Linked DNA regions of Homo sapiens: regions 2, 3, 4 and 5 are each reported to be linked to region 1. The links are microRNA targets in miRTarBase. Many come from high-throughput screens and were not tested one by one. Region 1 holds a microRNA gene; each other region holds the end of a gene's coding sequence.
The links. The annotated mature microRNA hsa-miR-433-3p reads AUCAUGAUGGGCUCCUCGGUGU and lies in region 1 at 3,326-3,347, shown strand. An mRNA with a match to its seed (bases 2 to 7 or 8) in the 3' UTR can be bound and repressed. Matches are read on the target gene's strand: a 7mer-m8 pairs with bases 2 to 8, a 7mer-A1 pairs with bases 2 to 7 and ends in A, and an 8mer does both.

Region 1 (6,143 bases):
CTCCCCTCGAGGACACAGTAGGGTCTCTTCCATGTGGGAGCTGAGAACTCTGGGGCCAGGTGGAAATGGCTTTCCTAGGGGATGGGGTGGCTCCAACTCAGGCTAGTCAGACCCCTGCGGGGCCCCTGAGCTTTGAGCCTGAGATCTGTTGGGTGGTCTCACGGTGTGTCTTCAGGAGCAGGTTCCTCAGCAGGGCAGAGAGGGCAGAGCTGGTGTGTCCTGGCATGGGGGCCCGTGTGCACAGAGCTCCAGTGTTTTTGCCCTCCTAGATGAAGTTCAAGGTCATGCTGAGAGAGGCCCACGGCTCCTTCCCCTCTGTGTCCTCGCAGAGCTCTCACCTGTGGAGGGGTGCAGTGGGGCGGGGGTGCTCTGGGAGGTTGGAGGCCACTCCTGGATAGGTGTGACCCATGGCCAGGAAGAGGGGTCAGCATGTCCTGGACTGTGGAGGGGGAACTCAGAGTGGGTGAGTGCCACCTGCCCTACCTCCCCAACTCCCTGTGGGACCCCTGGCAGCTCCCCTACCCAGGGCAGTGCACCCTCACCCTCACAACAGCCATTTTGCCACTTTGGGGACAGCATGACCCTCTGAAATGGGACCCAGGACTTTTCCTCTCGGAGTGGGGGTTAGGGACTGCTTGAGACCAGGGCTTGTGGACCCTGCAGTGTGGGGCTCAGACCGCACCTCGTTAATCACATGGCGAGGAGGCCAAGGCCAGAGGTGGGAACTGGGTTTCGGGGCTCCCTTTTCTGGAACCCTTAGGAGAGACAGCCCCCACTCCCCCGCCTCCCACTGCCCTAAGGCACCTCTTCTGTCCTCTCTTTGACATGAGCCTGTGGGGGGTGCACGTCCCTGGTGGCCTCAGTGGGGGTGGGTGCCTTCTCATGGCAGAAAGAAGTGCCCAGAGTCTTGGTGGGGACGCCTTCAGGAAGGTTGGGGGAGGCCTGCTGCCCATGTGCCAGGCCCCCAGGGGCTGTTTCAGGGCAGAGCGTTTCCTGCCCCCACCCTTCCTGCCCAGTCCACTTGCCCCCTCGTCCACCCCACCTACTCCCTCCCTCCTCCCATGCGTGTCCCCTCCCCCGCCTATCCTCCCACCACCTCCACTTTTAGAACAAACCCCAAAGTCAGACAGTCTTTTAGTTTGCTTTATTTGAGGAGTGCAAAAAGATTGGGGGGTGAGAAAGCTCGGGGGGTGGGGAAGGGTCTACTCCCCTTGCAAAGCGGTGGTGTGGCCAGAGCCTCTCTGTGACTCGGCATGGTCCCCTGGGTGTCTGTGTGCCTTCTGGGACTCCATCCCTGTATGAGGGGCCCCTGCACCCCTGCACTGTCCAGTGTTCAGTGTTGGGAGGGAAAGGCGCCCCAAGGCATGCAGGGGCCCTCTTTGCTGTGCAAGTCTGGTAAGTGGCACTGGTACGTCCGGATGCCCCAAAGAGCGGCTTTGTCCAGGTAAGTCCAGAGCTCAGGGCAAGAGGAAGGCGGGGTCAAAAAAGCTGAAGCAGATGTGGTGGGGGTGGGGGTGGGTTTGCTTGCAGGGTGTGATGGGGGTGAGGGAGGCACCACATCATCAGATGTCGGGAGGTTGGGGGATGGGGGTTGGGGGGCGGGGGCGGGAGCTCAGGGGAGCAGGAGCACCGGCAGTGGAGGTAGAAGAAGTCAGTGGAGCACCCGAGGTCAGTGTCCCAGGGTGGCCATCACCAGGCCGGGTGGGGGGCCCCGTCACCTGCTTGCTTGGCTGCGCCTGCTGTGCCTGCTTCTTCATCTGGCCACGCGTCATGGGGTCACTTCCTGCTCACCACTGCTTTCTCCCTCATGGATGTCACTCCCGGGCATGGGCTTGGGACCTGGAGAACGGAGAACTCGTAGCCCAGGGCTGGCGCTGGGTCTCTGAGGACTGGGTAGTCCGTTAGCACAGGTGGCATTGCTGGTTGATGAGTTGAAGAAGTTGTTGCCCTTCACAAGTGGGTTCCTCTTGGGTCAGGAGTGGCAGGAAGGGAAGCGAAGCAGGCTGAGGCGCGGGGAGGCCAGGGGACGTCGGGAGGTGTTGGGGTGAGAAATAGAGGGGACTCTTTGCTGGAGACAGGGAGGCGTCTTCAGTCGAGGTTAGCATCTTCGTCCTCATCAGGCAGCTCTTCTAGCCTTGCCTGCTCCCTGGGCTGGCTCTCCCAGGCGGGGATGGGCAGGGCCCGCCTGTAGATCAGGGTCAGGAACTGGCTCAGGGCCCTGGCTGCCTGCTCCCGGCTGAGCAGGTGCAGCTGGCCATCTGCACTGTGGATGTGGAGCAGGCGGCTACCAAGGAATTCCAGGACCTGGGGATCCATCAGGTGGCGTGGGCGGGGTGGGTGGGTGGCTGCTGTGTGGCTGGGTGGGGCCTCCTGCACGTCGTTGTCCTGCTTGTCCTGCGAGGTGTCTTGCAGGCCGTCATGCAGGCCACACTGACGGTAACGTTGCAGGTCGTCTTGCAGGGCTTCTCGCAAGACGACATCCTCATCACCAACGACGTGCAGCTCCAGGTAGCGGTTCTGACGCAGGGCAGGGAGGTGGCCCTCCTGGGGGGTGACTCTGACACCGAAGAACTCACACAGCGTCAGCCAGAAGCCAGGGGTGAACTGCAGGCCTCGGTGGGCCTGGGAGTGCAGAGCATTTCGCTGCCAGCGGCCAGGGCCCAGGAACAGCTCAGCCAGCTCCTGGGCTGGGATGGTGTTTGCACCTACGAGAGCGGGCATCTGGGTGAGCAGCTGGGTGATGGCTGTCGTGATGCTGCTGCCTGCGATGAGGGACGAATCCAGGATGAGTCGTAGGGAGCGCTGGGGCTGGGGCCGAGCCACCCGCATGGCGGGTGCCGGCCGCAGCGAGAGGCATTGCCTCACGCGCAGTAGCACGAGGATGGCTGCCAGGGCTAGGGTGTTCTTCCAGTACAGGAGGCCTCGGAAGAAGTGCAGAATGACGGCCCTGATCTGGGCCATGCTGAAGTGGGCGAGGAAGCTGTTGAGGATCTGGTCGATGGGTATCATGGCCAGCAGCTCTTGCCGTAGGATCTGTTCATTGAGCTCATCCTGTTCTTCATTCTCTTCTTCCCCGGATTCCGTCGATGGATCCCTGGGGAATCCCCTTGAGGCCAGCAGCAGGGTTTGCCTGGCGGCAGTGTTCCTCTGGAAGGCTCTCCTCCACCGGAGGTTTCTCACAGGTGGCAGAGCTCGGCCGCCGTCTTGTTCTGGCAGCTCCATGACGTCAAAGTTGAAGTGGGAGAAGAAGAAGACCCAATGCCCGGGGAGAAGTACGGTGAGCCTGTCATTATTCAGAGAGGCTAGATCCTCTGTGTTGAGAAGGATCATGATGGGCTCCTCGGTGTTCTCCAGGTAGCGGCACCACACCATGAAGGCAGCCCGTATTGGAAGAATCTTCATCTCCGCTTGAGAGTACTCAACCTCGATAGGGGAGATGTTGCGGGAGTAGAAAGCGCAGCAGGCTCTCTTGCCGGTTTGGTCGTCGATTTGGATCAGGGAGGCGTGCAGGGCCGTGCCGGTGACGCCGGTTTCCAAGTAGAATGGGTTCTGGGGCTTGGGGTGGTGGAGGAGAGGCGCCTTGCGGAAAGCCCTCTTCAGGCACTCGAAGGCCTCTTGCTCCTCGACTCCCCAGTAGAACTGGTAGGAGCTCAGCAGCTGCCGCACCAGGGGCTCTGCGATGATGCTGAAGCGCTCCACGAAGTGGCGGTAGGGGAAGACGAATTCGATGAAGTTTCGCAGAGATAGCTTGGAGCCAGGGGTAGGGTACCCTGTTATGATGGTCATGACGTTCTTGTTCAGTTTCACCCCTTTGGGGGTGACGACGAAGCCCAGGAATTCCACGGTTTGGCGGTGGAACTGGCTCTTGTCCAGGGAGCAGTAGACGTTGTGATGGCGGAAGCGGACCAGGACTTGGCGGACGTGGTGGAGGTGCTCCTCCTGACTCATTGAGTAGATCAGGACTTCCTGGCCATAAGAAAGCACAAAGAACCCTAGCATGTCCTTTAGGATGAAGTGAATCACGTTCTGAGGTATGATAGGGTCTGGGGAGAGCGCAAACGGCTGGTAGCTCTTCATCTCTTCAAGCTCCAAACCAAACGCTGCTTTCCACACATCTTCGGTGCGGTGCCCGTTCACGCTTTCCTCCACAATGGTCCCACGCAGCTCCAGTTTTGTGAACCACTCGGCTCCGTGTAACTGGTCAAACAGTTCCGGAATCATCTGTATGTAGTCCTGTCTGTTGGTCAGCATGTCCTGCAGGTCCCAGTATTCCTCCTGTAGCCTGGCTCTTTCTTGCATCCTGGCACCCACAGGTTCCCAAGGCGCGGTGGAGGGACACTCGTAAAAGGTCTCGCTGTGATCACTGTCTCCAGCCTGCTGAAGCTCAGAGGGCTCTGATTCAGAAAGATCATCGGATCCGTCTGAGCTTGGCTGGTCGGAAGTCTCATCATCTGCTTCCTTCGGGTTAAACACGTCGGCCAGGTCTGAGTATGGGTGTGGCAGTCCGGGTAGCAGGCTCATGCCGTGCCTCTCTAGGGCAATGCATGGCGGGGGCGGGCGGAAGCAGTTCTTCAGGCAGTAGGGAGAGTGGAAGGTGCAGCGGCCTTTGATCCAGTCGACTTCGGGGGCGTGGACTCGGAGCCAGCGGATGCCTAGGACCACAGAGAAGTTCGGTGAAGGTACGATGTCAAATTCGATGGACTCCTGGTGGTTCTGGTGGATACACACCAGGGGCTCCGTGTAGAGCCAGACAGGCTCGTTGCCAATCAGCGAGCCGTCCACGGATTGGACCGGCTGTGGGTACGGCTTCTCGTAGAGCTCGACGTAGTGCTCTTGGGCGAACTTCTCATCCATGAAGTTGCCGTCAGCTCCCGAATCCACCAGGGCCTGGACCGCGACGCTGTGGTAGGGGTTCACTCTCACCATGAGCAGCAGGAAGAGGTGGGCGCGATTGATGTCCGGATGGACTTCGCTGGGCAACCAGCTGCTGACCATCCACCTCTCTGGAGCAGGTGAGTCGATCCAGGTCAGGTTCCGGGGGCGGGCCTCGGGGGGCAGCCTGAGCATAGCTCTTCTCTCTGCCAGCTTCTCTTCTATTTGCAGGATGAGCACAATCAGACTGTCTAGGGAATCCGGCTGAGGGACCCGGAATAGATAGTGCCTGATCTCCTCGTTGAGCCCCTGGCACAAGTGGGCCTGCAGGACTTCATCTGGCCAGCCCAAGATGGGTACCAGGCTCTGGAACTCATCGATGTACTCAGTGGCAGAGCGGCCGCCCTGCCTGATGGTGAACATGGCCTCTTCTGCCACACGCAGTGCCTGGCGGTACTCAAACACTTCGGACATGGCCTCCAGGAAGGCTGGGAAGTCTCCGATCAGGGGGCTGTTTTCCTGCAGTAGAGCTTTGGCCCATTCTAATGCCAAGCCGGACAGGTGATTGATGACATAGCCAACTCTCAGACGGTCGTTATAGAACATTCTTGGGTAGCTCTGTAAGGTCAGTTGGCAGAGTACGATGAACTCGTGGAATTCTCTGCGATCGCCAGAGAAGTGCTTTGGGGCGGGCAGTTGGCCTGCATTGATCCCTTTGATCAAGATCTCTTCTGCTACTCTCTGTTGCTCTTTGAGGTCTTGCATTCGGAAGTACAGCGAGATGATGGACCTCACCATGGCCATAAGTTCTGCGGTTGAGTGCTCGGTCTGGTTTTGCTCTTGAGGAGTCTCCTCCCTTCCCGATTCCTTCAGGTCAGTGTGAGCCTCTTGTTCTTCTCGGGCTCCCGATGGGTTGACTGATGCTTCTTTCATCCTATCAGATGCTCCACTGAGTGGATCCCCCCTTGCCTGGTGTGAACCGTTGCATGACTCCTCCAGGTCTTGGAGTAGGTCATTGGGTGGATCCTCTATTTCCTTACGTGGGCCACTGGATGGCTCCTCCATGTCTTGGAGTAGATCAGTGGGCAGCTCTTCCATTTCCTGGAGTGGGCCACTGGGGGGCTCCTTCTTTTCCTGGGCTGGGCCGCTGGCTGGCCCTGCCTCTCCCCGCACTCCACTGCCCGACGTCGCCTCGGTGGTGTTGGATGAGCCCTCGGAGGACTCCATTTGTTTTGATGATGGATTCTTATGCTCCATCATCGTCTCAAATG
Region 2 (6,143 bases), not on the chromosome of region 1:
AGAAAATTAACTTGAATATATCAAAAATTAAAGATCCCTTTAACTTTTACCCACTGATCAAAAAAGGTAATTTTTAAAATGATTTACCTTGTAAAACAAAGGGGTAGAGCTGCTACAGTCCATCTAGGCTCTATATACTGGTCATCTCATTTCAGTTAGGTCAATTGGACTGCCTCTTCTCTTTGGCAGTCTAAAATCTCATTTAAGGGCTTTAATAAATGAAAAAACTTACCTTAAAACTGACATAACTAAAATATGACCAGAAAGTATACCATAGCATTGATAATTAAATTCAAACTATTGGTCTTGCCATACTTGAGAAACAGATGTATAGTCTAATTATTTACATGTTGCCAAAGATAGAGCCTGCAGATTGGTAGAATCCAAATGATGTGACTCTCCCCCTCCCTCCATCAAATCTAGAAAAGCAATTCTTGAGCAGACACCAATTTAAAGATATTTTTCTACCAATTTAACAATATATTAGGAACCAGCTTGGCAGATTATGAAAAAGGTAAAAATCTCTTACTTTTGAGAATCCCCATGTATCCTTGGGCAACATCTCTGTAATTTAACAGCCTTTAAAACTTAAAATCGTAAGAAAAGACAACACAGCCCTTAGCATTACATACTTTACTTTTCAATCCTTACTATTCACAGTTTGAGCTAGGAATTAACATTTGCTAATCTAGTTGGACTCAGTTTTTCCCACAATGCTCTATTTTCTCACCTAGTTTTGACAAATTTATTCCTTCTCTTCCCAAATACTAGGATAAGAGACAGTCTCAAACTGTTAAGTTGCAAATTTCTTGGGGTTTCTGCTTTATTATTTCCTTGATATCCACAGCAGAAATTCAGAGGTATAACTTCAACATTAACAGGTGAAAAGTTCTACAATGACTTGTTGCACTCTATCACATTAAAATAATTGAACTATAATTTCCATACAACATAAGAAAACTACAGTATTTGGTGACAACTGCAAGATACCTGATAAATAAATATATCAACTTACTATTCATGAAAAGAATGGAGCTGGTTATTTCAGCTTTAAAAGGGCAAAGCAAAAAGACCATTTTCTAGCCATTTAAAAGTTACTCAAAAAATTGATACAATGGAGTGGAAAGGAAAACAAAAAAGATCGTAAGCACCTTTAACAATGTTCTTGCATTCTACTGATATACAAACCTCTGGGGTTTCAGTTGGCACAATCAAGTTCAACTTGTACTAACAGAAAATATTAAAATTCTTCCTATTTTTAATATCAAACAGGGAGGTTAGTAAATTGTTTTCTGATTCTTCTACAAAAAAAAAAGTCTAGAAGACAGAGGGAATGTAGTGTGCACCCCTTATTCTAAGTGATAATTTTTACTTACGAGGTCATAACGAGTGCAAAGGGCTTAGTGATGCATCTTATTCTTTACTTTTGGACAGTAACACCCTCAGATGGTATTTTTATTGGTTTGTTTTATATTCCCCTTTTCCATTTGCCCTTCTGTTTTGAAGTGCTTTTTCTTAAAACTTAAGTTCTTTGCCTCCATTTTCTTATAAACCCAATTTCCTCTTTAGGTGCAGCTCTACTATTTGAAAGGAACCTTTCTGTTGTAATTTACAAGCTGTGAGTAACTGCTATATCATTGTTTCCAAGGATTAATAAACTGAGAAATGATTTAATCAGATATTTGCCACTTACAAAAAGGGAGGCTGACCTTAGGAATTATTTGAATATGGGATAAACTTTTCCTTTTATTCATAAGTTACTTCACATTGTAAGTATACCTTTTTAAATAAGGAGGACACGAAAAAAGAAAGCTTTGTTAACACTCATCTATCTTGTCAATGTTTGAAATCATTTTTCCTTTATATGCTTGGTAAAGTGAGTCTTTCCAAGAAAGCAAAAATCAAATCTGAGTACTTCAAAGCCTGTAAAACCATAAATGAATAAAACCATAGGACTTTGGACATACACAACCAAAGTAGTTTTTGTTTTTCACATACACCATTAAGTTGAACTTCAAGTGCAGTGGAAAGGTACAGCACTTATTTCTGGATCAGTTCACATTCAAATTATAACCCTTTATCTTTTTCTCAAGAATACTACAAACTGACCCTAAACATTAAAGTACACCTGTGCATTAAATCCCTGGGCATTTTGCATAACGTAGAAAAAAAAGGCCAAACATGTTCTAGTGCTCAATGTAAACATTTTAACTATTAATGATTTATTAATTTTCCTTAAAGGTACTTAGGAGTGTGTGTGTCACATATTCAAAGTTAACCTTAGGAATAGCACCATAACCAAAAAAACCCATAAAAATTATTTTCTCCATTATCTCTCAGTTTTATTTCATAACTTGAGAAGCTACCATTGTCGGCTATGCTTTTAAAGACATCAGGTCCATTCTTGCTGCTTCTGATGAAACCAAATCTGATTAAAAACCAAAATACCACTTCTGTATGCAAGGGTCTAACTATTTTGGACTGAAAGAAAAAATGGTAATTGGATGGCCAGTCAATGACCAATTAATGCAGTCCAAATAATCAGAATAGTTCTATTAATGAAGCCTAAACTGTCAAAATATTGTTTTATACCAAAAGAATGTATGTACTTATGAATGTATTCCATATTTATTTATGGATTTTTTTGGTACCTTTTTGCAAATGATGGTAAACATGGAGTTAAAACCTGAGAACAGATTATAAAAGAGAAGGTTAAGAAGAGTTTAAATAAATTAATGGATTTGACATCTATCACCAGTTTTTAAAATTAGCAAAGTAAAAGGCATCCCATTAGTCTTTTCAGTCTTAGTCAAGGACAATTATCATGAATCAATCTGTTTACTATCTACTTAACACAAGTTCTGAGAAGAAAAGCATCATAGTTCTGAAATGGTGATAGCTCTCTAAGCCACAAATGAGAGGAGGTTTCCCACCTATCTCAGTTGATAATGTCCAAAAACATCCTTCCCCATGCATCAGAGTAGAAAGAAAATGTACCTTCTACTATGTCAAATGGAATAGATAACTACAAAATAGGAACACTTCAGAACATTCTCTAACATTAATACCAGTCTGATGCTTCGCCTTGTCTGCCACTTCAAAGATACACAGGAGAAAAGGTTTTGTCTGAAACCAAACACAATTAGGGCTAATAAATAACATTGTCTAATATTGATACCAGTCTGATGCTTCACCTTATCTGCCACTTCAAAGATACACAGGAGAAAAGGGTTAATTTTGTCTGAAATCAAACACAATTAGGGCTAATAAATAACTTACAGGTGGGGTACTGTAACATATCCCTTACCCACTAAATATGTAAACCATTTGAATCAAGTCCATCTTCAGGCACAAACAAGTTAGGAATGGCCATCTACACTGGAGTAGCATAACCTATCAAGTATTTGGTTAGAAAATAAGTGTACTATTTGTGTGATAAACTTTCACTTTAAATGGATTATAAAATTATTTTCCCACAAAACATGACAGTTTCTTATATTTGGACTAGAAGTCACTAATAAAGATACATTTAGTTGCCCCAGCAAAGAATGCTTAGGATTGCACATGGAAGCAGTAAACTAAAACAAAGAGATGGAGAATGACATTTAGCTATTTTCCTATATAGATAAGATTTGCAATTGTACTCTTAACAAAACTCACCTCTACAATTGGAATACAGATGGGGGAAACCTACATATTAACTTAAATACTCTTTTAGCCCTGTACACTCTATTAAAGAACACACTTCTAAATCTAAGGCACACGAATTCCTCTATTTCACAGAGTAAGATTATGGAAGAGCAAGATTTTGGTTAAATCCCTTACAATGGAAACCAGGAGATCTTGGACAGAAGACAGATTATATAGCATTTTGTTAGTGCACAATTTAAAAGAAAATGCTCTGACTATGCTCTGGTCCTAGAGGTTTAAAACATGCACTCAAATCATTAAAAATAATTTACCAGCACTTTATAAATTCAAGTTTATAACATAAAAGTGACAACGTTTTCCTTAAGAAGAAAAAAACCCAACAGCACTTGGGAAGAAAATTAGAAACCATTTCAATGAAAGTGACCAGATCTGGTATAATGCATTCTACTCAAGTAGCCAGGGGAAGAAAAAAAAAAAAGTGGTAGGTACCTCGCCTACTAATCATGGTTACACCTCCCATGATTATAGTGTCAGTATGCATGTATTTATGAAGAATCTGTAAACATAGGTTGTGAAATTGTTGTAACTACTATAGAACAGGGGTTAGAAACTACTGCCTCTTTGACAAATTCAGAAAATAACTGCATGACACTTGCTGCCATGAAAGTAATGCTCATTGGTTTTGATAACCAGGATGTCTAGTGTTTAACATATTTCAAACTCTTGCTATATGTAGTCAAATACTGTCAAAATAGATCTGCCCCCAAAATGAAGCATATTTTGGCACCTGTGCTGAATGCTGCTACAAAGACCAGCAAGTGCAAATAAAAATAACAGTCATGATTTAGTCACATTCATAACTTTTCATAGAAAAATATAAATATATTCCCTGAATTGTAAGACAAAAAAATAATTTTAACAGCCAGCTTTCACCATAAATGCCAGTCCATTTCCTCTTAAATGAACTGGCTTTCCCTCAAGGTCATAAGGTGCAACCATTGAAATCTAACACATTTTCTAAACTTCTGTCATCATCCCCATCATGGTATCTCACAGTCCTTCTACCCTGATTTCTCGTTTTTATTTTTGAACGTCGAAGAACTCTTTTAGATTTTGCATAGTCCAAATCCTCCCAGTCATTATCATCCACACTTAACCTAGGGCGTTTGCTTTGTCTTTGACGTCTCACAGTTTTAGATATGTTAGCTGTAAAAGTTTTACCTTTTCTAACTACTTTTGCTTTTCCTTTCGTTTTCCTCCTTTTGGTTTTTGTATTATCAGTACAGTCAATATCTGATTCAGTTACAGATCCCAAATCTGATGATTTGGAACTAGTATCAGGTCTAAACTTTGAATTCCCAGTTGTTTCAGAGATTTTCACATTTTCCAATTCAGGATGCGATCTCTTCCTTTTTACTTCCTTCTCTGCTGTTTCCTGTGAATCATGAATCACTTTTGTCTTACTAAAAGGAGCCTTTCCATAGGTCCTGAGTCTTCTGCCATTCCACCTGCGCAGCCCATAATTCAGTTCCACTTCAAAATTATTCTCTGCAGTAGCTTTTTGTGCCAAGGTTGACTCTGAAGAAAATGTCCTATCAGTCTCACTCCCTGGAATATGACTTTTTGAATCTTCTCCTGAAGATGTAACAGAGGAACTTTTTCTTTTAGAAGGTGCATCTATTTTGTGAATATTGGTATGCCTGTGCTTGTGTTCTGAATTCAACATATCTTCAGAGTCTGAGTCTCCATTTAGAGCCTGACTAAGCACTTTTGTACTACCTTCGGAGTCAGGATCAGGTGGCTTGCCTTCACAGGCATACTGTTCACTTGGTACTTCACAATGTACACTTCCTTCACAATCACTCAATTTCTTCTTAGCTGTAGTACAAGCAAGATGGAGAGGTTTTTTCCTTCCATTTTTGCTTCTAGTGTGCACATTTTCTAAACTGACATCTTCTACATCACTCATGAGCTTGATCTTATTGGCAGCCGTAGCTGCACATCTTCGAGTAATCCTCAGGAGACCTGTTCTGGCTTTTGATGATTTCTTAACCACCTGTAAACTACTGTCTGAGTCACTGGAACAGACCCTTTTCCTGGAAATTTTTCTGCTTAGTCCATTGTCTTGTGATGCAGAATCTAAAAGTTAAAGAGCAGATTTCTATTAATCTTTTGTAAGTCTAAAGGAATTATATGTTCAATATTAAAAACAAGTTCAGAATTCGTATTAATTTGAAGGGGGTATTGCAGTGAATGGAATGGTACACACCTATTAGTATAGTCATATGTTGCTCAACAGCAAGGATACGTTCTGAGAAATGCATCGTTAGGCTATTTCGTCTTAAGCAAACATCACAGAGTGTGCTTACACAAACCTTACAGTACACCCTACTACACATCTAGGTTATATGGTATAGCCTATTACTCCTAGGCTACAAACCTGTATGACATGCTACTGTTCTGAATCCTGCAGGCAGTTGTCACACAATGGT
Region 3 (6,143 bases), not on the chromosome of region 1:
ACATGCACACAATCTTCATGTGTATTTTGGATTTAAAAAAAGCAACTGTGGTTTATCACTTAGGACAATATACAGTCCATTTTGAAAAGACAATAAATCTTAATCGTAAAAGATCCAGATAAAAAATCGTGGAGAATGTATCATCAAACAGTTAGTAAATTCATAAAGAGAAGATATATGATTTGGAGTGATGATCATGAATTTGGAATTTGGTTCTTAGCAAGATCTTGAAATGCTCCAAGGTGAGAGTAGAGACTTGATAGGTAGAACTCTGGCCTCTAACGATGGAAAAAGATAAACTACAGGTCTGCTTGGTAGTGATGGCGGGAGTAGGGTGATGATATGGGACATGAGAAAATTCAGGATATTTTTTAGGTATTTGAAAATAAAATTGGGAACTGACATTTGACTGAAAGTTCTTTAAAGCAGGGGTCCCCAACCCCTGGGCCATAGACTGGTATTGGTCTGTGGCCTGTTAAAAACTGGGCTGCACAGCAGGAGGTGAGCAGCAGGCAAGTGAGCGAAACTTCATCTGAATTTACATGCTGCTCTCCATTGCTCACATTCCCACCTAAGCTCCGCCTCCTGTGAGATCAGCGGCAGCATTAAATTCTCATAGGAGCATGAACCCTATTGTGAACTGTGCATGCGAGGGATCTGGGTTGCATGCTTCTTATGAGAATCTAATGCCTGATGATGTGTCACTGCATCCGTTCACCCCCAGATGGGACAGTCTAGTTGCAAGAAAACAAGCTCAGGGCTCCCACTGATTCTATATTATGATGAGTTGTGTAATTATTTCATTATATATTACAATGTAATAATAATGGGAATGAAGTACACAATAAATGTAATGCACTTGGATCACCCTGAAACCATCCCGTGTCCCCATCCTGGTCCGTGGAAAAATTGTCTTCCATGAAACTGGTCAGTGGTGCCAAAGAGGTGGGGACTGCAACTTTAAAGTACACTGCCAGATGAAGTCACCTGCACTAAGAATCAGAGATGACATATGAACTAAAACAAAATAAAGCAAAACCAATTTAACCTTTTTCTTTCTTTGACAAGGCAAAGAAATGAAAATATAGAGTTGAAACTTGTAAGGAAATTATCTCAAAGGTATTTTTTTAAAAAATAATAGTTATCTTCTCTCTTTCAGGAGAAACTTACTTCCGAATGCATCTTTAGGGAGCAGTTTGAAGAGAACTGGTATAACACCTATTCATCTAACATATATAAACATGGAGACACTGGCCGCAGGTATTTTGTGGCACTTAACAAAGACGGAACTCCAAGAGATGGCGCCAGGTCCAAGAGGCATCAGAAATTTACACATTTCTTACCTAGACCAGTGGATCCAGAAAGAGTTCCAGAATTGTACAAGGACCTACTGATGTACACTTGAAGTGCGATAGTGACATTATGGAAGAGTCAAACCACAACCATTCTTTCTTGTCATAGTTCCCATCATAAAATAATGACCCAAGGAGACGTTCAAAATATTAAAGTCTATTTTCTACTGAGAGACTGGATTTGGAAAGAATATTGAGAAAAAAAACCAAAAAAAATTTTGACTAGAAATAGATCATGATCACTCTTTATATGTGGATTAAGTTCCCTTAGATACATTGGATTAGTCCTTACCAGTAGACTGAAGCCAAAAATCTGTTAAACTGTGGATAATGGGAACCCTCACATGGTTGCTGCTGGTGCCTCACCTCTCTGGATTATGTTTACTTTAAAATTTATGTTAAAAATAGAGACTTCATGTTGAAGAAATGGATTGACTTAGCCAAGAGCATTGCTACATAAATTCTGAGGACCTTGTAGAATTCACAGGTTATGGCATTATATGTTTTAAGAAAAAAAAAAACTAAACAACACCTGGGTGAAACATGAACTATGAAACATGCCACACCAAGACAGAACACTTTTTAAAAGAATGGACCTATTTATACACTTTCAATTTGAAAATATTTATTATATATATTTATTTATTAAAGAGTTTATTTTTTACTGGGATATGAAGATAATACAAAGAGTAAAAAACAACAAAACTTCCGTTATTGTGCCATTACTTTATTGTGGTGTCTTGCTCTGTAAAGAGGACATTATTATACCACCTTAACCATAGAATCAGATTTTGAATTTCTTTTTAAAATATAGTATAGATTATATTTTTTATGCAGTCAATTGCCTTCTAAATGTAACGTTGGTTTCTTTTGGCCTAGAAAAATGCCTCATTGATTTGTATTAAATTCAACACACATTCAAAAGGGAATTAAACATTTTCATGCAGTGTTTTGGCTTCATTGCTTTTCGGGTGACAGTTCTTTTATTTATATAACATTTAAAAATGACAAAATTCTAAATGCCCTAGAGAAAGACTTTAGTATTTAAAGAACTTCTAATGTTGAAAAGTATTGAACATTACAGCCAACTTATGTTTACTTATTTTCTTAATTCAGTGTGGCAAAGACCATTTCTTTCACCCAATATGATTGTAGGAAGAATAAGTCTTTGTACCACCTCCATTAACAATGGTAAGTCCCCATCTACCTGAGTCGGGTATTCTTTTCATTATATCTCTTATTTAGCCATTTATTCAGCAAACATTTTTTTTTAATTTTCTTTTTTAATTAAATTTTTATTGTGGAGATGGAGTCTTGCTATGTTGCCCAGGCTTGTCTCAAACTCCTGGCCTCAAATGATGTTCCCACCTCAGCCTCCCAAAGTATTGGGATTACAGGCATAAGCCACCATGCCTGGCACAGCACAGGTTCATTAAAGGCTACTATACAGTAGTATAGTATAGTGTCAGGCACTAGGGGAAAATGGGGTGGTCCAGATAGAGGTGGGCCCTACATCATGGAGCTTAATGGCTGGTGGGAAAGACAGATAGTAAACAAGTAAATTAACAAATACCATAATTATGAGTGGTGAGTTATTCTATGAGGAAAACAAGGTTCAGACAGAAAAAAAAAGAAAGAATAAATGTAGGATGGCTCAGAGAAAGCTTTTCTAGGGAGATTAGATTTCTGATGGGCCCTAAAGGTTAAGAAGGGGCTACCCAGGTAAAGAGAAGGATGAGAACCTTCTAGGGGGAGGAAACAATGAGTCTGGGGTTCCTAAGGCAGGAAATAGCTTTGTGGCTGGAGCTTAGTGAGCTATGGGGAGAGTGGCACAGATGAGTTTAGAAAGCTAAGCAGATACAAATTCTGATAGATTTGTAAAAGTTCTTCTAAGGTTTTATTTCCTAGTGCCCAACAGTTGTCAATGCTGCTGCCCTCATGGTTGGGCATGTAGTAATGATAGTGGACCAGATGCCACTCTTTACCAACCTGGAGAGCTGGGTAAGACAAGGATTGCTGGCCTCTACCCCCAGAGTTTCTGATGTGTAGTTCTGGGGTGGGGTCTAAAAATGTGCATCTAGTTTCACCTAGTTTCCTAGGTAATGTTGACCACACTTTGAGAGCCACTAGTCTGGAACAGTGTTTCTAACATTTAATGTACATATGAATCACATGGGGATTCTTATTAGAGGATGATCTGGGATTTTGCCTTTCTACAACATCCCAGTGATGCTTGATGTTCCTAGATCTTGAAGCACACTTTGAATGACAAGACTATTGCTTTAATGCTATCTTATTTCTATATTCGTTCACCATCTTCTTACTTACATAAATTAATGCTGATGTGTATGGTGAGAGGAGAGAGTTCAACATATGACTTTAATAAAGCGACACTTGAATGTTCGTGTATGTGAAGAGTTGGGTGTGCACTCGGGTGTGTATATGGGAGAGATAGAGAAGGAAATGTTTTAGCTCAAAACCTCTTGGTTTTATGAATATAAAAAATAGTAAAAATAGTTTAGCAGTAGTACTTAAATAATCTTCAAAATAACCCCATTTTTACTTTTATTTATAAACTAAAAAGTAAAAAACTACTTTTGGTTCAATGTTTGACATCCATATTTGAAGTACATGCCCTAAAGCAAGCATTAAGGAAATATTTTAAGTCTTTTGCAAAGTGGTTCTGGTGTCTAAAACTTGTAACTATGAGGGAAATTGTACACATTTAAAAAGACAGTACACTGATCAAAGATGTCCCCAAATAAACGTTGTTTTGCAATCAAAATTTTTTTGAGATATAACAGGAATATATTTCTAACATTTTTATTGTGACAGACATTTGTAGTAATTTGAGGAATGAAATGTGATTAAAACAATGGTTTTATAAACTTGTAGAAAATTAGAAAGTCACTGTATCTTTTAATCTTATTATGTTTATATACTGGCATCCATTCCTATGTCAGAAAAATAATTTGCCTTTGCTGGACTGACACTATTTGAAGAAATGATTATTGGGTATCCAGAGGGATTTTACTTGATACTGCTAAATGGAAGTTATATGTCAACATAGTAATTAACTCATACATGGAGAGATAAGAATAATTTGGTTTATTATCAAATCGATATTTTGAAACCAATTTATTATATTCTCAGGATGCTAGTGAGAAACTTCATCTGTTATCCTTTTCGTCTCCTTATTTTCTTCATTTAAAAATGTTCTATTAGTAATTATAAATTAACTTTCAGTTTTTATTCTTTTATATTGGAATATTAACTACCAATTGCCAAACTCCTCCACATTTTCTGCAATGATAAGAGAAATCTAAGCATATGGGGGTGGAGAAAACTCTTGGTCTGTCGATTCCAAAGGGTTTGGTTTTTAGACAAATGCAATGTCAAAACAAGGAATTTATTTTATTTATTTATTTTTTATTTTACTTTAAGTTCTAGGATACGTGTGCAAAACATGTAGGTTTGTTATGTAGGTATACATGTGCCGTGGTTTGCTGCACCTACCAACTTGTTTTCTAGGTTTTAAGCCCCACATGCATTAGGTATTTGTCTTAATGCTCTTCCTCCCCTGCCCCCCATCCCCCAACAGGCCCCAGTGTGTGATGTTCCCCTCCCTGTGTCCATGTGTTCTCATTGTTCAACTTCCACTTATGAGTGAGAACATGCAGTGTTTGGTTTTCTGTTCCTGTGTTACAAAACAAGGAATTTATGCCACTAACCCTTTGTGAGATTATAGATCTATCATAAACTTAATGTATAAAAGTAAGAAAGCCATTCAGGCTGTCACTTATGTTCATAATGCAGTTATGGCAATTTCCAGCTTTGTGAATTAGCTAATCATCAGAAATATCTCATATATAATAAAAGCCTGGCTTCAATAGAAAAGTTGTTAAGCCTACAGATACAATGAGTCCTCACTTAATGTTACTGATATATTCTTGGAAACAGTGATACTAAGCAAAAGGACATATAATGAAACCAGTTTTACTGTGGGATAATTGATATAACAAAAGGTACATTCCTATGGCATGTGTCTGATCACAAAAATATCACCAACCCTCTGACTAATGTAGAAATCAAAATAAACTTTTAGAGATGCATCTCTAAGCTTAACGTTTTTGTTGGGGAAGCAAGAATAGCAATGTGAGTCTTTCGCATGTCCAAAGAACAAAGAGAAGGTTAGAAATTTTACAAAAAGGAGAAATGTTCTGTATCATTTTGAAAGAAAGTTCAATTGACACTAGTAAAATGTGGGGAGCTGGCAAGTTCTGATTGGTGAGTGACTGCAGTGGATAGAACTAGTCTTAGGGTCCTAACAGGTTGTTTCTGTAGATATTAGATGAAACTGGTCTCCAGTTATAGCAGGCAGTTTCAGCAGCCAGGCTTGCAGAGAATTACATTCTTGGGGCAATGCTATATGCCCTGAGTGCTCTCTTCCCTCTGGCTTCTTGACTCTGTTTTAGTTGGTTATGACATGAATGACTCAGTTTATATGCTTAACTTTCACACTAATGACCCAAAACACTTTTAATGTTGAACATTGAAATAAATGTCAGTCACATGTACATTTAAGAAAGATTAATAAAAACATAATGTGATGATAATTATTTACTCAATATTTGGTGAATCAGTAAATGACTGTGATTATGGTGGTAGTAGGTTAAATCAAGGAATCAATGTTTGAAAAGCAAAAATTTTTAGGATCACCTCTTACCACCGTGCAATTTACAAACAAATAATGAATGTGGCGGACTTGCTGAGCACTTTCCTATCTCATCT
Region 4 (5,876 bases), not on the chromosome of region 1:
CAGGTGATCCGCCTGCCTCGGCCTCCCAAAGTGCTGGGATTGTAGGCATGAGCCACCATGCCTGGCCTAACACCCAAAATTTTTATTGGGAGCTGGTCACTTAGTACCGTCTGCTTAGCACATACCAGAATTCCAAACCCTGCAAAGCAAAGCCTGTGTTCAGCATAAACCACGTTGTTTGCATAGTCTATGCACAGGGAGCCACCCATATCAGCTAACTGTTGACTGGGAGCGAAGTTGGCCAAGGGTCAACATTGCAAGGAGACCTTTCTATAGATAGTAGTCTCTCAGGCCTTCAGTGTTAACTCTTTTCTGCACAGGGTGAAAAAAGAAATGACACTCCCTGCTCCAGAATCAGATCATAGTTATTCTATGGTACTGGATATGGAGGTTGTGGTTGGTGATTCAGGGATCTTCATTTTTGCTGTTTTTCTTTTCCAGAATGGCTTTGACTACTTACTAACATACAGTGACAATCCCCAAACGGTGTTTCCTCGCTACTGTGTTAGTTGGATGGTTTCCAGTGGTAAGTAAGGGCAAGTATACAGGGCCTGGAACCTGGGTTGAGCATTTTGTTTTTCTCTATTTCCTAATGGGGAAATAAAACGTCTCTTCTGGTTCTTCTTTTTTTTTTTTTTCTGAGACAGAGTTTTCACAACCCATGCTTTGGGAACACATTCCGGGAGGCAGCTCTTATTCACAGGCTAGTCAGGTTGTGATCTTTATAAGGAAGAACTAGTTCCCTACCATCAAAGAAATAGGGTCTTCTCATTTTGAGCCTACTGTTGGTTTGTATGTCAGCTTAACCTGATTCTCGTCTCCTGACAGGCATGCCAGATTTCCTGGAGAAGCTGCACATGGCCACTCTGAAAGCCAAGAATATGGAGATTAAAGTAAAGGACTACATCTCAGCTAAGCCTCTGGAAATGAGTAGTGAAGCCAAGGCCACCAGCCAGTCCTCTGAGCGAAAGAACGAGGGCAGCTGTGGCCCTGCTCGGATTGAGTATGCTTGACAGGCTTTGGGATAAGAAGGGACAAGGTGCTTCTAGCCCTGTCTCAGTCCGTTATCACTCTGCTGTAGAAGGGGGACATGCCACATGTATTAGAAGGCATCTGCTGTAACTTCCAGTGCAAGATAATTCAATAACTGATGTCCCATTTCATTCAGAGCCCTTATTGCTCTTATCAAAACAGAAGAAGGCTACATTTGTGGGAGTGTTGTCATATTCTCAGGCCAACTGTTTTGAAATTCGGTATCTCACTGAGCTAATCTGGAACAAACCTCTCACCTCAGGCCAGAAGGGGATGACCTCCATTTGCTTCTCTGAGTAGTTTCCTCTGCTGACATTCCAAATCCCACCATCGATTGTGCAGCGCTTTGGATTTCCTTCAGTTCTCCAGGTCCACCTGGAAAGTATAGTTGGCCAGTTGAGTCTCTCAAATGAGGGGCTACTGGGAGTGCTCTTGGTAACAATCATGATGTGAATGGGTGTGAACGATACTTGGCTATGTTAAGTGCCTTGTCCGCACCTTGCTTTTATCTCTAGAGACATGAAGTTATTATTAATTTTTTTTTTTTTTAAGTAGAGATGGAGTTTCACTCTGTTTCCCAGGCTGGTCTTGAACTCCTGGGCCATGCCTGGCCAGGGACATGAATTTGTACAAAGAAATTTCCCTCCCTGCCTGCACAATATCACCCATTGACTCACCTTATCCAAAGCAAGTTTCCTGTGAATCGGCCAGTTCTTCTATATTCATTGGATCATTGCCTCCTTCCTAACCTTCCCCATTTACCAAGAACACTGGGAGACTAATCCTTTTAGATAGTAGCTTTTTGATGCTCAAAACATCACATTTAAATTTAGTTTAAAAATTTTTTAACTTTTGTGTCAAATAGGAGTTGAGGAATTGAGCAGGATTCTACCCTAGTCCGATTGTATAGAAAACACCATTTTGATTCAGGTATTATTTTTCATATTTCAGGTTTGACTTGTTCTTTTCAGAAGGCTAAAGTCAGAGGAATGGGGGCTGGGCCACTCCCTTGGAGCTCTCAGATCTACAGACAAGCTGTGTGAATGCATAGATGTAATCTTGTCTCAAATACTAATACAGTGGAGATTTGGTTTATGTTACCATTAAGTTCCTCTAAAAAGTTTTTCTTCCTCTCTTCAGAGCCAAAATAAAAGTGAACTACACTGTTCAGATAAGGTCACAATCTGATGCTGTCAGTTTGACCGAGCTGGTTTTGCTTATGGTCATGCTGCAATTTGTTAGAATAATAGGGATCAAGTTTTAAATCCTCCTCCTTCCCTTTTTTCTGGAGTCTTGAGGGCCAGAGTTTTTGTTTTTGTTTTTGTTTTTGTTTTCCTGCTTGCTACTGTTTTGTGGTGTTGAAAAGTGGTTTAAACCTGAGACTAACTTAAACACTTCCTTGACCTTCTTGTTGCCTGTTCATTTTTGTGCCAAGGAAGTAGCTGCCCCAGTGTATGTCTTGCCTTCTCCGCGTCATTGTTGGAAGAGGAGAGATGCATCGAGCAGTCCCAGCTGCTTTTCATTTATTACTTCTTCTTTCCAGGACCTGACAGAAGTCAGGGAAGAGTCCCTGGGTTATGTCCAAACTTAGCACCTGCAATTGTTGGGATGTGGATGGATGTGTGCATAAGAGAGAGAGAGAATATGTGTGTGTGTGTGTGCGTCTGCGAGCGCACACACATGCACAAGTGCGAAGGAGTTGCGGTTGCTCCATGTTCTGACTTAGGGCAATTTGATTCTGCACTTGGGGTCTGTCTGTACAGTTACTCATGTCATTGTAATGATTTCACTCCTAACTGTGACATTTTTATCAAATGTGTGAATAAATACATAAAGATTGGTACAAAAAAAAGTGTTTGTCTTTGGACAAATGGTGGTGGAAAAATCTTGCATATTGGACTTACCATTTCTTTCTGATCACAAAGTTGAAAAGAATTTTACTCTGAGAGTTGGGAGGTGGAAGTGGCAGGGCTTGTTCATTCTTGGTAGATAGTGGCTGACACAGTTTGCCTAGACCACGAGCCCTTTCCAAGTGACCTGCTTGGCAACTGAAAATAAACCACCTATGTCCACTTCCCTAGCTTGATATACTGACCCATATCCTTTCCCTTTAAAAAAAGATCACTTTGGAGGGAGCAGTGCTAGAGCTTAGCAGACGGTAGAAATCAGGAGGGACAGAAGCAGGCCTGAGGTCTAGGGTTGAGGTTGAGGAGAGGGTCAAGTCAGCGCTCTTGGCGGAGGGGCAGTCCTGCTGGCATGCTCTGAGCATAACATGAGTTTATGTGTAATTTTGCCTGTGGGAAGCACTAGGTGAACACAAAAGCACACCCAGTTGAACTGAGCTGCATAGGAACACACAAGGCACACGTCCCTGTGTGGTGTACCATCTGATTCCAGAGAACCGCACGCCCCATCTCATGCTTGCAAGCCGCAGCCCTTCCATCGGCCATCCTGGCTCTGCCTCACACTCTGCTCTTTATTCTCTTTCAACCTCATTTGTGTTTTACCTCTCTAATTTTTTTTTTTTTGAGACGGAGTCTCACTCTCGCCTAGGCTGGAGTCCAGTGACGAGACCTCGGCTCACTGCAACCTCTACCTCCCGGGTTCGAGCAATTCTCCTGTCTCAGCCTCCCTAGTATCTGGGACTACAGGTGTGTGCCACCAAACCTGGCTAATTTTTGTATTTTTAGTAGAGATGGGCTTTCACCATGTTAGCCAGGCTGGTCTCGAACTCCTGGCCTTAAGTGATCCACCCACCTTGGCCTCCCAAAGTGTTGGGATTACAGGCGTGAGCCACCGTGCCCGGCCTATAACATTTTTAAGTGACAAAATTTTAGAAATGGAAGATTGATTTAGAAATGGCCGGGCGCAGTGACTCATGCCTGTAACTTTCGGGGGCCGAGGCTGGTGGATCACCTGAGATCGGGAGTTCAAGACCAGCCTGACCAACATAGAGAAACCCCGTCTCTTCTAAAAATACAAAATTAGCTGGGTGTGGTTGTGCATGCCTGTAATCCCAGCTACTTAGGAGGCTGAGGCAGGAGAATCACTTGAACCCAGGAGGCAGAGGTTGCGGTGAGCCAAGATCACGACACTGCACTCCAGCCCAGGTGACAGAGCAAGACTCTGTCTTAAAGAAAAAAAAAAAACCACATAGACCAGGCAGGGTGGCTCACACCTGTAATCCTGACACTTTGGGAAGCCGAGGCAGGCGGATCGCCCGAGGTCAGGAGGTTGAGACCAACCAGGGCAATATGGTGAAACCCCGTCTCTACTAAAAATACAAAAAAATTAGCTGGACACAGTGGTGGGTACCTGTAATCCCAGCTACTCAGGAGGCTGAGGCGAGAGATTTGCTTGAACCCGGGAGGCAGAGGTTTCAGTGAGCCAAGATCACACCATTGCACTCCAGCCTGGGCAACGAGCGAAACTCGAAAAACCAAACAACAAACCAGAGCAACACCAGGGATCCCTTGCGATGCTGGTCTACCACCACAGTCAACTGTGGTGTTAGATACACAAAACTACACTGGTGATAAAATTTTAAAGCTTTTTTTTTTTTTTTTTCCCGAGACAGAGTCTCGGACTGTTGACCGGGCTGGAGTACAGTGGCTCGATTTCAGCTCACTGCAACCTCTGCCTCCTGGGTTCAAGCTATTCTGCCTCAGCCTCCCAAGTAGTTTGGATTACAGGTGCCTGCCACCACGCCCTGCCAATTTTTTGTATTTTTAGTAGAGGTGGGTTTTTACTATGTTGGCCAGTCTCAAACTCCTGACCTCGTGATCCGCCCGCCTGAGCCTCCCAAAGTGCTGGGATTACAGGCATGAGCCACTGTGCCCGGCTAAAATTTTATAGCTTTTTTTTTTTTTTTTTTTGAGACAGAGTTTTGCTGTTGTTGCCCAAGCTGAAGTGCAATGGCACAATCTCGGCTCACCACAACCTCCGCCTCCCGGGTTCAAGCGATTCTCCTGCCTCAGACCCCTGAGTAGCTGGGATTACAGGCATGCGCCACCACCCTGGCTAATTTTGTGTTTTTAGTAGAGACGGGGTTTCTCCATGTTGGTCAGGCTGGTCTTGAACTCCCAACCTCAGGTGATACACCTGCCTTGGCCTCCCAAAGTGCTGGGATTACAGGTGTGAGCCACCGTGCCCGGCAAATTTTATAGCTCTTTTTTTTTTTTTTTTAGATGGAGTGTCTTGCTCTGTTGCCCAGGCTGGAGTGCAGTGTCGCAATCTCAGCTCACTGCAAGCTCCACCTCCCGGGTTCACGCCATTCTCCTGCCTCAGCCTCCCAAGTAGCTGGGACTACAGGTGCCTGCCACCACGCTTGGCTAATTTTTTGTATTTTTAGTAGAGTTGGGGTTTCACCGTGTTAGCCAGGATGGTCTTGATCTCCTGACCTCGTGATCTGCCCATCTTGGCCTCCCAAAGTGCTGGGATTACAGGCGTGAGCCACTGCGCCCAGCCCAATCTTTCTTCTTTTTCTCTATGTTTTCTCTCACTTTGTCTTATCTTTTGTTCTCTTCCTCTTCATGCAGGGTGGTACGCGTGGGAGCTGGGTGGGCTGTCCAGTGTGTTTCTGCCTGCAAATTGCAGGTCAAGGTAGACTGCTTTATTTCTTAACCATTGACATATTTGAAACTGGTACCTTTTTATGTGTCACAAAGATTTGAGTATTGCACACCTAAACCCATTTCTCTATAGGCCTTGCAGTTTTTGTTGTGTGGTTTGTGTAGACATGTTGTGAGACAGCAGCACTGAGTGTTCTATGAACAGGAGAACCAAATAATAGGAAAGTAGTGATGCTTTAATAGCTAGCGTGGGCTTAGCTATCACAGCGTGGT
Region 5 (5,000 bases), not on the chromosome of region 1:
AAAGAAAACTGATACCATAAGAAAGTTATAGTATCAGTATATATTTTATCATCTGAGAATAAATGTAAATGGATAAATGAGTCTTTTTTTTTTTTTTTTTTTGAGATGGAGTCTTGCCCTTTCGCCCAGGCTGGAGTGCAGTGGTGCGATCTCGGCTCACTGCAAGCTCTGCCTCCCGGGTTCACACCATTCTCCTGCCTCAGCCTCCTGAGTAGCTGGGACTACAGGCGCCCGCCACCACACCTGGCTAATTTTTTGTATTTTTAGTAGACATGGGTTTTCACCGTGTTAGCCAGGATGGTCTCGATCTCCTGACCTCATGATCCGCCCGCCTTGGCCTCCCAAAGTGCTGGGATTACAGGCGTAAGCCACCATGCCCAGCCTATAATGTTTTTAAAGATGATGGGTAACATAAAAATACTATGTGGTAATAACTTAGAATACTAGGTCTGGAGGAGGAGAACAGGCCTAGCCCATGTGAAAGAATAAGCAGTAGCTAATCTATGTGGTCTTGAGGTATAGTATAAACCTGGAAAGTTCTCTGAACCTCTTCAGTTCTGAGGGTTGCCCAATTAAAACAACAACAACAACAACAACAACAAAACTTTATCAGATGTACTGAATGACTTCATTCTCTGATAAATTTCAAAGCTTCCAGAACAGAGGATCAACTATTGTAACTATTGCCCATTTCTGGTCCAGGAAATACCTTTCTGATAAAGAGTGCTCATAAAACGCTTGTGTTGTTTTCATTCATTCTATCTAGAAGTGGGCAAATACCAAAACCTTTATCCCAGATTAAGGTCGGATAATAAGTGAACCTGATGACCTACTTTAGAATGACAATTCAAACAGCTATCCCTGAAACCAGACAACTACACGAGTTATGCCTTGAAGCAGATCTTTCAAAGTGCAACGAAACATTACTCCTGTTTTTCACTTGAGGAGACTAAATTATGGTCATATCTTTTCCATGATACTGATTTTTTATTTAACATAAACCAAATACTGACTGAATCAAAGACTAAAACCCCACAAAATTTCATCCTTTAAAACAAAAAGCAATAAAATCCCACCCCTAAATCAGGCCTCAAAGTTCAAAGAAATGTTTAAAAATCCCCCATATGGGATCTGACATGAATGTCTATTATTGTCCCCCCCAAGTCTTCTCAAAAATCACTTTAAAATCTTGCTTTGAGACCCTAAGTTTTCTTGGAAATAAAATACATTTATAGATTGTTTTAAACCTACTGAATTTTACTATTTCTGCTTGCTTTCTTCCCATTTAATAAAATCAAAATAAAAAATTTTGACCAAATAAATATTTATTGAAAGGTCCTGCCACCAAAAAAGCTTCAGGTTTTTAAAAACATATAATCAAACAACAATGTTCTTCTGATTAAAAAAAAAAAAAGTACTTATTTAAATCTGAGGATCCTTATATGTTCAATAGAGGATTGTGGTGATCCTTTGTATTTTAAAAATATTATTTGTGGGGCCTACTTTACGTATCTCCTGTATAAAAACCAGCTTTCACTCCACATGAATAGAGAAGATGCTGAATACGCAGGAATCTGATTATCCCTCACGTGATTATTACCGGCCCCTCTGGGGCAATCTGCTTGCTCACTCATTCTGCCACCATTCTCTTCATTCAAGTGTTTAACAGCACATTTATCAAAGGCAGCTCTCCGATGCAATGTTTAACGAGTGTCTTCTCAGGAGTGTATCCGTGTCATTTATTCTTCTCATCCAGGTAAGCACGAACTTCACAGTACTACTAAAAATCTTCTTCAAATTATATTGATAATGGACTTATTTCTGACCGTTTTTGGATTTGGGAAAACTCTAATATTTGGATTACCAAATAACACTTCTGTAGATGCACTGATACCGAAGTTTATTTTTACAACCTGTAAACAGATCTGAAGTTTGAACAATCCCTAATTATAAATTAATACTAAAATGCAAACTTGCCAAAACAGTATAGATTGTTGTCTCAGTGAGACAGAGAAAACGAAATGCGAATACCGTGTTATGACTGTACTCTGGCTCGCACAGCAAATGTGCATCAGGAAGATGGGTCTACCTTGATGGTACATCATCCCTCCATGACCAGACCTAATACAAACTCCCTCACAAGTTTCCACCCATGGAAGCCCTATGGCCGATCAACAGAAGCAGTGGGAGTCACTTCTGGCTTTTTCTTTACTTAGACACAGGGTCTCGCTCTGTTGCTCAGGCTGGAGTGGACTGATGCGATCATAGCTCACTGCAGCCTCAACCTCCTAGGCTCAAGGGATCCTTCTGCCTCAGCTTTCCTAGTGGCTGGGACTATAGGCACACACCACCACACCAGGCTAATGGGAGTCACTTCTAAAGAAAACTCTCTAGATGGTTTTCCTTATATGCCTGTTAGCTGAGAAGAAAAGCCTCCTTCATATACAATCTTGAGACAAAAAGAGAAGAAAACAAAAAGCTCAGCTGTATTAACAGACATAGCAAGCAATTCTGAGGGAGCACAAAAAAGTGAGGCTGTTTCCTTTTTTTTTTTTTTTTTTTAACAAAACTAAGATGGACATTTCACACAACGCAGAGCTACGAGAACATCTCTTATGCTCCTTGCCATGGGATTTTAATGCCCCAAGGTTCATAACTACAGCAAAGAAAGTAAGTCAAAAATAAACTGAGCTTAAAGAAGGTGGCAGGCCAATTTTCCCAAAAAGACTGTGGACTGTGGGCTGCTGTGTAGCCTTTGCTACAAGGCTGAGGAAGCAGAAGAAAGATGAATTGGGCAATTGGTGATGAAAAGTATTTGCCATTTTCAAAGGCTTCTCAGTGTGGCCATAGATTTTGCTAGTCAATTTTTAAAAAATTATATTTTTAGCTCAACACACAGCTCTAAAGCAGGGTTCAGTGTAGTGTGTTCTCTACCGAAATGGTTATATACAGATGGTATGGAAATGGTTTTAAAGATTACTCATAAACTATCCTTTTAAAGAAAAACTAGACTCGGTCATATTTGTTAAAATGAGCAATGTCACCAAACAGAAATGTAGGTGGGAAATACTGAACCACAAACATTTGGAGTTGCAGGCATAGACTAGCAGAGCATGAATAGTCATCACTGTTTCTATAATACTGAAACACTCAAATCTGTTTCTGAGGTTTAAAACACAGAGCTATATTATATTCATAAACTTCCCCCTCCACTTAAGTTATATTTGCCTAACACATAATGGACAAATCAATAGAGCCAAAGCAAATTTGCAAAAGGCTCAGGTCAACATGAAAATTTTAACCTTAGTATTAGGAAACTCTTAGAATACTTACAAATTAAAAAAACACACAATAAAACACACATACACATATAAACCAGTGCAATAAGAACTTTAGACAAGGGCAGTGCATCTCTGGTTTAAGAAAACCTATTTGTAGCTTGATTATAATAAATTAACTCTATTCTAGATGATGGTTTAATTTTACAAGCAGCATTTGAAACACATTGTATATGTATGCTCAAAACCTGAAAACCAATTCACCAGTAACAATTCTCAATCAGTAACAAATTCCTACTTTAATTGTATATTGCACATACTTTTAGTGTCTACGTTAAAATAAATTTAACTCTTCTTAATGTAAATATCGGAGGACCATACCTGTTGCCCTTGTAGAAATAATTTACCTTGAATAACAGATTTTCCTTTCTTGACAAACAAGAATGAGAATAGATTTCAGCTTCGTTAGTCCAAAACTATTTTAAAGAAAATGGCTATTTTATGTGGCGAAGACACTGGAAATGGATTGTTAAACACAAAATCCTTGGTTTATCCATTGTTGCCATTTTGAAAAACATTTCTATGGTCAGAGTGTTTAAAAGTCTGACCCTTTTTTTAAACCACCAAATAGTCCCTAGAGAGATTAGCTGTCTCCTTGACTGCTCTAGAATGCTGTTTGGAGAGTGGACACAGAGAAAAAGCTTTGGATAAAATGGCATGAAACACAAATGGCATTAAATAGGTCATCTATTTCACGTAAAAATAAAATGACTAGCACCTCCTTCCGGCTCCCAAAGTGACAGGCCCTAACAGGCCACATGAAACATGGTTTATGATAGTAAGTTTCATTATTCATACAGTATTGAGAAATCCATTACATTAGGGGGGTCCCACATCTAAAGCCTTCACTTCAAGGCTACCGTGTAAAAGTGAACTGAAGGGCACAAGGAGAGAACGGCGGACACAGGCCCAAGAAGGTCCTTGCGAAGGGTGCGAGGAGACCTTTCAGGGACTCTCCTGCATCCCGTCCTCTGTTTCCAGTTCTGCCAACTGCCTTCGAAGGATATTGACTTTTGCTTGTAATTCTTTATTATATTCAATGATGTTAACCATTTCTTCATATGCTTCATCCAAATACTTAGAGGATCTATTCCAACGTAGGAAAATACCTATTGAATCCAGGAATGGAAAACAGAAGCAAGAAAGGTATATACAATGGATTAAAATTACATTTGTGGATAAGATGTAATTTATGTATTATACATTCTTTTTTCTTTTGTTGCCACAACTCACATCTGTATTTTATTATACTCTAAAATATACAGGAATCTTGAGGTACTGAAAAGGATGCAATTGAATACAATATTTGAGAAGTCACTACTTGTATGTACATGCTCATTGATTCTTCAGAAATATCCCACAAAATTATCAAATAGATCCAAATACCATTTTATGATATATTCAGGAAAACAAGATGATAATTTGCAATGTCATAAACTTTCCAATTTCACAATATAAATCACTTATTTTTATAATTATAGAATATTGCTCAGACATGTAAGATCCCTTAAATGTGTGAAGCCATTTTCACCTGAAAAGTGACAACTACAGTAAAAGCAGAACCACATATGTTGTTATTTGAAAGCCTGAACTGTAGCCCACGTGCTTACATGCCTCTCTCCCTGTTACTTGAGAGGCAATCTTTCAATTCTGCAGGCAATT

Region 2: the mRNA of BRWD1 is a reported target of hsa-miR-433-3p. Seed matches in the 3' UTR shown: 7mer-m8 at 4,489-4,495 and 7mer-A1 at 1,018-1,024.
Region 3: the mRNA of FGF20 is a reported target of hsa-miR-433-3p. Seed matches in the 3' UTR shown: 7mer-m8 at 1,585-1,591.
Region 4: miRTarBase lists STARD7 as a target of hsa-miR-433-3p. Seed matches in the 3' UTR shown: 7mer-m8 at 1,474-1,480.
Region 5: miRTarBase lists MTMR9 as a target of hsa-miR-433-3p. Seed matches in the 3' UTR shown: 7mer-m8 at 318-324.

The regions. Positions count from the first base shown.
Region 1 is chr14:100,878,624-100,884,766 of GRCh38, forward strand. It overlaps MIR433 (microRNA 433), which reads left to right and starts at 3,263; the gene lies at 3,263-3,355. RTL1 (retrotransposon Gag like 1) reads right to left here. Exons shown (of 4, transcript NM_001134888.3): 4 at 1,130-6,143. The coding sequence ends at 2,089. MIR431 (microRNA 431) reads left to right here and starts at 2,384; the gene lies at 2,384-2,497. MIR127 (microRNA 127) reads left to right here and starts at 4,356; the gene lies at 4,356-4,452. It also overlaps MIR432 and MIR136.
Region 2 is chr21:39,191,626-39,197,768 of GRCh38, forward strand. BRWD1 (bromodomain and WD repeat domain containing 1) reads right to left here. Exons shown (of 41, transcript NM_033656.4): 41 at 1-5,790. The coding sequence ends at 4,634. Among named protein-coding and RNA genes, the nearest start is that of PSMG1, 11 kb to the left of the region's middle.
Region 3 is chr8:16,988,334-16,994,476 of GRCh38, reverse strand. It overlaps FGF20 (fibroblast growth factor 20), which reads left to right. Exons shown (of 3, transcript NM_019851.3): 3 at 1,160-2,296. The coding sequence ends at 1,405. Among named protein-coding and RNA genes, the nearest start is that of FGF20, 11 kb to the left of the region's middle.
Region 4 is chr2:96,181,867-96,187,742 of GRCh38, reverse strand. STARD7 (StAR related lipid transfer domain containing 7) reads left to right here. Exons shown (of 8, transcript NM_020151.4): 7 at 442-526; 8 at 829-2,884. The coding sequence ends at 1,013. Among named protein-coding and RNA genes, the nearest start is that of STARD7-AS1, 24 kb to the left of the region's middle.
Region 5 is chr8:11,322,072-11,327,071 of GRCh38, reverse strand. It overlaps MTMR9 (myotubularin related protein 9), which reads right to left. Exons shown (of 10, transcript NM_015458.4): 10 at 1-4,447. The coding sequence ends at 4,284. It overlaps MTMR9-AS1 (MTMR9 antisense RNA 1), which reads left to right and starts at 1,644. Exons shown (of 2, transcript NR_189628.1): 1 at 1,644-1,756.